2 linked regions of the Homo sapiens genome follow. The protein of the gene in region 1 interacts with the protein of each later gene in a pairwise test. Each region holds a gene or a part of one and is shown on either strand. Other genes may lie near its edges. The genes, in order: GPM6B and CLN8.

What was found.
Region 2: the proteins of GPM6B (region 1) and CLN8 interact in a two-hybrid assay, tested with the Homo sapiens proteins (one study listed by BioGRID).

What each region holds. Positions count from the first base shown.
Region 1 is NC_000023.11:13,806,954-13,810,773, forward strand, and holds part of GPM6B (neuronal membrane glycoprotein M6-b), read right to left. Parts: intron 817-3,820; coding exon 697-816; intron 1-696. UniProt on the Homo sapiens protein: May be involved in neural development. Involved in regulation of osteoblast function and bone formation. Involved in matrix vesicle release by osteoblasts; this function seems to involve maintenance of the actin cytoskeleton.
Region 2 is NC_000008.11:1,783,680-1,787,140, forward strand, and holds the end of CLN8 (protein CLN8), read left to right. Parts: 3' UTR 1-2,891; downstream 2,892-3,461. UniProt on the Homo sapiens protein: Could play a role in cell proliferation during neuronal differentiation and in protection against cell death.

The sequences.
Region 1 (3,820 bases):
GAGGTTGGATGTTCATACTGCTTCACCTTTTGCCCCTTCTAGGTCCCCAAATCAGCTGTCGCACACCTCACCCAGATCCAGCACCTAGCGGTTCTGAATGGCCAATGTTCCTCACGAGCAAGGAAAATGGAAACCGGACCCACTGAACCTACCTGATGGGAATCGGGTACATGGTTATCCAATCCTACTTTCACAGCTTTGATTTCTCTTTCTCAAAGGCAATGACTGAGGTGAGAGGGTGGTGCAGAGCAGCAGGGCTGGGAAGACATTTGGGGACACTCACAGTACTCTCAGGGCCAAGGCTCCTTGAAGGCCCTGGCCCAGTTCTTGGCCACATGGGGGATGTGGGTGGCCCCCCTCCCCCATTATTGGTTCAGGCATTGGAAATTTCATGGTTAACCAAAGGCATATCTCACTGTACATTGTTCCCTTTGAGAAGACGAAGTGATTGAAGGTGAAAGAGGGAAGAGGGAAGAAGGAGAAGAAAGTGGAGAAAGATGGGGTGGAATGGAGAGGGAGAGAGAAAAAGAAAGATGATTAAAAAATGTTTATAGGGCGAATTCCACCCATGCCCGTGTGAACAAATTAATGCACCAAGCAAAACATAAAATATCACCAAGCTGCAAGAGCCATTACAAATAATATTAAAGATAACAGTTGACTTGCTATTAGAATTCACCCCAAGGCTGTATTTACCTGGACTGCTCAAGGGGCTAGCCCTGTCCCCCAGGGTTGGCACGGGATGGTACTGGTGGTTCTTTGAGCCTGGGTACATCCAGTGGTACCTGCCAATTTCCATTTCAGCTCTGCTGTTCACTGCCAATTTCAGGTGGCAAAGAGTCAGTGTCTCTATCTCCAGCAAAGATTCTATATCAGCATTTTTATTTATTCTTTACCATAGAAAGGAAATGGGGAGTTTAAAAAATATGCTATTGAAATGCAACCCTTCAGTACCAGCATGATCCATTGAGAATGTCCTCCGTTTCTAAATTGAAGTTTATGTAAATCACCAAAATGATCTTTATTTTCTACATCTTTCCCCCAACACACACCATATCCTGCTTCTTAAAATGCTCATTTGGGGAAGATACTATTTATAGTGAAAATTTGGCTCCTCACAATAATATTTTTCTTTCTGTTTCCTTTTCAGACCAACAGAGCACTAACAGAGCACTATAATTATTGCCAGCTGCACTAGCAAAGGTGAACGCAGGCTCCCTCTCTGTAAGGGTACCCAGCTCTAGTCCAGAAAACCTGGCAAACAACCTAATGGTCTGCTGTTTCTTGGATGAAATGCTTGTCCTCCCATTGACGTCTGCAGTATTGTCTGTCACCTTATCTTAAACTCAGAACGTCAGAGTCTAGAATGTTCTGGATTAAATCCTGTTCCAATTTTCTCCCATGTGCTATACAGAAAGGGCTACTGGTCTTGGGCTCGAACCACTGCTTAATTACACACATGGTGACAGCTGGCACTCCCTGAGGACTCAGGTCTCTATCTGGTAATATGATACAATATTTCCCACTTCTTAGGGGATTGCAAAGAAAAATACCTACCAATTTGCCTGGCACAGAGTAGGCTTCTCATAAAAGTTAGTTGAATTACAATCTTGAAATCTCAAAGAGATCATAAGGTCGCTATGGCCAGTTTATCTCCGAGAATCCCATAAAACCTAATAAGGGGTTATATCCTCTGGGGCACCACAAATATTTAAGGATTAAAAAAAAATTGTGCCATTGATGTGGGTAATGATTCCATCAGAAGATCAGGTCATAATGCACCATCTGGCAGCTCAGGTCTCTGAGGAGAAGAACCTACTAAAGCCACAGTGTGAGGCAAGTAAAACCTCACAAAGCCTTTATAAAATCCCAACTCCACTCTCCACAATCTCTGAAAACTTGTAAGGTATTTCAAGTTTGGAAGCAGAAACCTGCTTTTCTAGAATGTTTTAGAAAAAATCTTTTTGACTTCAAGGTAAGGTATACATAACTCATTTAAAACCAGGGTAGGGAGGTACAGAAAAGATGCTGGGATAAGATCAGAACTGCACAATGAAACTATTTTTGTGGTCAATGATGATGACAGCAAAAATTTATGGAGTGCTTATGATGTACTATGCACTGCACTCAGCATGTGGTACTTATTACATTTGTCACAACCACCCTCTGAAATAGGTACTATTATTATTCCATTTTTACAAGGGAACAACCCAAGGGCAAGGAGAAGGTAATGATCACTTGCCCAAGATCTTTCAGCCAGGAGGTAGAGAAGCCTGAATGTGAACCTTAGCAATTTCACTCAAGAGGGCACACTTTGGAAACCACCATACATCCTACTGTGACCTCTGCATGTATTGCAATTTTCTACTCTTCTGCTGAGGCAACAGTTAACCCAATGAGAGTTTTTCTGAGGTGCATTTGCAGTTGAGTTGTGCTTCTGTGTCTCCTAAAGAAACGGTCCAGGTCCTAAGCTACTGATGTTATCTCAGGCTTCTTAAAATTTCTTAACTTTCAGTCTTCCTTAGATTGAGATTTTTGTGGGCTGGGTGCGGTGGCTCACACCTGTAATCCCAGCACTTTGGGAGGCCAAGGCGGGCGGATCACTTGAGGTCAGGAGTTCAAAACCAGCCTGGCCAACATGGTGAAACTCTGTCTGTACTAAAAATAAAAAAAATATATAAAAAATAAAAATTAAAAAATTGGCCAGGTGTGGTGGCTCATGCCTGTAATTCCAACACTCTGGGAGGCCGAGGCAGCCAGATCACCTGAGGTGAGGAGTTTGATACCAGCCTGGCCAACATGGTGAAACCCTGTCTCTACTAAAAATACAAAAATTAGCTGGGCATAGTGGCGCACACTTGTAGTCCCAGCTACCCAGGAGGCTGAGGCAGAAGAATTGCTTGAACCCAGGAGATGGAGGTTGCAGTGAGTTGAGATCGCGCCACTGCATTCCAGCCTGGGCAAAAAAAAAAAAAAAAAGAGTAAAACTCCATCTCAGGAAAAAAAAAAAAAAAATTAGCCGGGCATGGTGGCATACGCCTATAGTCCCAGCTACTCTGGAGGCTGAGGCAGGAGAATCACTTTAACCTGGGAGGTGGAGGTTGCAGTGAGCTGAGATCATGCCACTGCACTCCAGCCTGGGTGACAGGGTGAGACTCTGTCTCAAAAAAAGAAAGAAAAAAAACCCCCAAAAAACAGATTTAGATTTTTGCTTTACTGTTCAGGAGATTCTCTCTCAGAAATAGATGTTGCTACATTCTCCAAAGGCAAGAAAACCCAGTGGGGCTGACAGAAAAAAAACAGAAGGTCAAGGCACTTCATGGTATGATCTGATTTCCTCTTGGTAAAGGGGGCTATGAGCCCTCCACATAGACCCCTAAGCAAGAGGATTCTAAGTAGTTCTATCACTTTTGATCTGGAAATTTTTATCCTTTTAAAAAATTTGTCTCTACATACTCAGCACACAGGTGCCCAATAAACGCTGGCTGAATAAATATTTGGTTGAAAGGAAGGGAGCACCCTGGGACCCTGTGGACCAGAAATGGACCTCTAGATCCCCCACCATGCTGACTTTTACCCAAGCCAGGCCATGCAATTCAGGGTATCTCTGCAGAAGATTCATCCATGCTCTGTGCTCATCTCCTCATATGGATGGGGTAAGTCTCCAGATGTTCAGGCAAGCAAGCATAGGCTGCTAGGCAATGACAATGAAAAACCATGGACTGCTCAATGTTAACGTGTTTTCTGAGAAAAACATGGCAGCCATGCCTAAGACCCTTAATTCAGGATTTAAAAAAAAAAAAAAAAAAAAAGAATAGAT
Region 2 (3,461 bases), on another chromosome or scaffold:
TGTCATGGCCGCAGTTCAGTGTGAGATTTTTTACCAGGTATTGCGCTTAAGGGACATGATTTTCCATTTTCTTCGCCCGGACAACTTGAATGAAATGGGCACTGTTGATTCCACTTCTGTCGAGGAGCTTCGGGGCTCAGAGAGGTGATGACGTGCCCAAGGTGACGCAACTCGTGAACAGCCGTGCCTGCCTTGGGCGCAGCCTCCGGCGCCAGAGCTGGGCTCTTCAACACGGCATTTAGCGCAGAAAGTCGTGGTTCAGGCAGTATGGGCCGCTGTGACAAAACACCTAAGACTGGGTAGTTTATAAAGAACAGACATTCAGGCCAGGCACGGTGACTCACGCCTGTAATCCCAGCACTTTGGGAGGCCGAGGCGGGTGGATCATTTGAGGTCAGGAGTTTGAAACCAGCCTGGCCAACATGGTGAAACCCCATCTCTACTAAAAAAACAAAACTAGCTGGGGGTGGTGGTGCATGCCTGTGGTCCCAGCTACTTGGGAGGCTAAGGTAGAAGAATTGCTTGAACCTGGGAGGCAGAGATTGCAGTGAGCCGAGATCACGCCATTGCACTCCAGCCTGGGTGACACAGTGAGACTCCATCTCAAAAAAAAAAAAAGAACGGACATCATTTCTCACAGTTCTGGAGGCTGGAAGTCCAAGATAAAGGTGTGGGCTGATTAGTTTCTGCTGGGAACACTGCATCCTCACGTGGTGGAGGGGATGGAAGGTCAACAGGCCTCAGCTAGTTCTCCGCTGCCTTTTTATGAGGCATTAAGCCATTTGCAAGAGTAGGGGGCCCCACCTCTTAATACCACCGCAATGACAATTACAATGTCATGTGAATTCTGGAGGGGACACGGTCACACTGCAGCATCAGCACCCGGTGAATGTGGTTCTCTTCCCATGTCCGAATTTTGTGAGCTCCACACGGGCAGGGTTGCATCTGTTTTATTCTCTGATTGATTCTAAGCCCCATGTCCCTGGCACAGGATGGCTGCTTGGCAGTAGGGAGTGGATGAACCAGTAGTACCCAGGGCTGCCAGGCAGGGCCCTGCAGGGGACAGACCCAAGGGCTGATATGGGGACACCTGCTGAGGGGGGAATTTACCACGGTAAGGGCAGGGCTGGGAGGCTGGGCAGCCAGTTTCACCCTCGCACAGGCTGCCTGGCAAGACCAGCGGCTGGAGGTGATGTCCTCAGTAGAGAACGGTGGCCACTGGAAACGTGTGGCCAGAAGGGGAAACGCTCGGGCCTCTGGTGGGGGCCAGCCTGGGGTGGGGTCGGCCAGGGTCAGCTGCCTTTCCTTCATGCTGGGGAGGAGATGTTGTGTGCATGTGAGAAAGCATTTGATAGCATGCCAAAAGTTTCCTCCATTATGTGCGTGTCAAGTGTTTGACCAGGTCAGAACTCTTGTTCTATGCGAATGTGCTCACGCAGACAGAAGCGGAGGGGCTCCGTCGCTCTGCCCTCACGCCGCTGAACCGCGAGGGTCTCCCGCTCCTCAGGCTTGCGGCTCGGCCGCGAAGTGTGTCAGGTGTGCATCCTGGGTGCTCCTTTGTGCTCTGTCCTACGGTGACACAGGCGGCGTGGGGTTAGACAGGTACCGGTCAGACTACGGTGACACAGGCGGCGTGCGGTTAGACAGGTACCGGTCAGATTACGGTGGCACAGGCGGCGTGGGGTTAGACAGGTACCGGTCAGATTACGGTGGCACAGGCGGCGTGGGGTTAGACAGGTACCGGTCAGATTACGGTGGCACAGGCGGCGTGGGGTTAGACAGGTACCGGTCAGATTACGGTGGCACAGGCGGCGTGGGGTTAGACAGGTACCGGTCAGATTACGGTGGCACAGGCAGCGTGGGGTTAGACAGGTACCGGTCAGATTACGGTGGCACAGGCGGCGTGGGGTTAGACAGGTACCGGTCAGATTACGGTGGCACAGGCGGCGTGGGGTTAGACAGGTACCGGTCAGATTACGGTGACACAGGCGGCGTGGGGTTAGACAGGTACCGGTCAGATTACGGTGGCACAGGCTGCGTGGGGTTAGACAGGTACCGGTCAGATTACGGTGGCACAGGCGGCGTGGGGTTAGACAGGTACTGGTCAGATGCACGGGCTCCCTAAACCCCTGCTGTGGCTTCGGCAGTAAAGACAGGACGCACCCATGTCACAAGAGGAGCACAGGCAGGGGTGTTGGTGTTGGGGCAGCCCTCAGGGTCTCCAGACCCCAGCCCCACTCACACAGCAGCCTAGGAAGGAAGGGCAGAGTCCCAGGTGTCAGCTGGTGGGTCTCCCAGGAGCTGCCCCTCCCTGGAAGTCACAGGACAGGAATGACAGATCAGGGAACTGCAGGAAGCTGCCACCTCTGGGGTCAGAATATGCCCAGCCTGCGGGGGCTCTCTATCGGGGTCTTCGAGAGCCAGACAGCCTGCCTTGTGCTGCATACCTGGCTTTGCTCTGTGCAGAACCCAGCACACGTGATTTTGTGTGACATGCCAGCAGCCTGGCTCCCAGGACAGGAGGCCTGCCCTGGGGGAGGGGCTGCAGGAGGAGGGGGGGCAGGCACCCATGAGTCTGTCCAGCCTTGTCACAGATGCATCGCCCACCCTGCGGTCCTGATTTCAGCTCACCTCAGAGTAAATCAGAATAAACTGCACCCAGACTTTCACGAATGCATGTTGACGCTTTCAGTTCACCCCTTTCTTTGCTAACTTTCTTCCTATTTTCTTCTAATGCGAGAGCTTATTAATTCCATATTTATCATTTTGAATAACTTTTCTCCTTTTTAGTAACAAAATGTACTTCACTCTTAGTAAAATGTATTTACTATTTTAGTAACAAAAATATACTTGCCTAATCATGTTTAAAATATAGTGATGTGAAAAATTCAGACGTCTCTATTTCCTTTCTTCCGATGACTCAACCCCAAATGTCTGGAATTGATTCCGAGGTATCCAGGACCCACAGCCAGCCATCCAAGAGGAAAAAGAAACCACACCCTTCCTTCTGGGAACCTGGCCAGGAACCCCAGAGCACAGGCGCCTGGCCTTAGTGACACTTCTTTTCCACATCTGCAGGCCCATGGAGTGAATTCATTTCTTTTCTCTCTGCATGTATTTTGCTTTTACCGTTGTGCTGTTTCACGCTTGGCAGCCTCAGTTAGCACTCCAGCCCGCCTGAAGCCGTGCACAGCCCATTCCTGCAGGGTTTGATACCTGCAACCTCAAACCCATCAAAAGAGTCCAAAAATTAAACCAAAGTTAAAATCCTCCATTATTACAGAAAGTTATTAAATGTCAAGTCTCAATCTGAAAAGTTTCTGCCAAAACTTTACATAAAAAACTTTTTTTTTTTAATTTAAAACAGGTTCTCTCTATCGGCCAGGCGTGGAGTGCAGTGGCGTGATCGTGGCTCACTGTAACCTTAAACTCTTAGGCATAAGTGATCCTCTTGCCTCAGC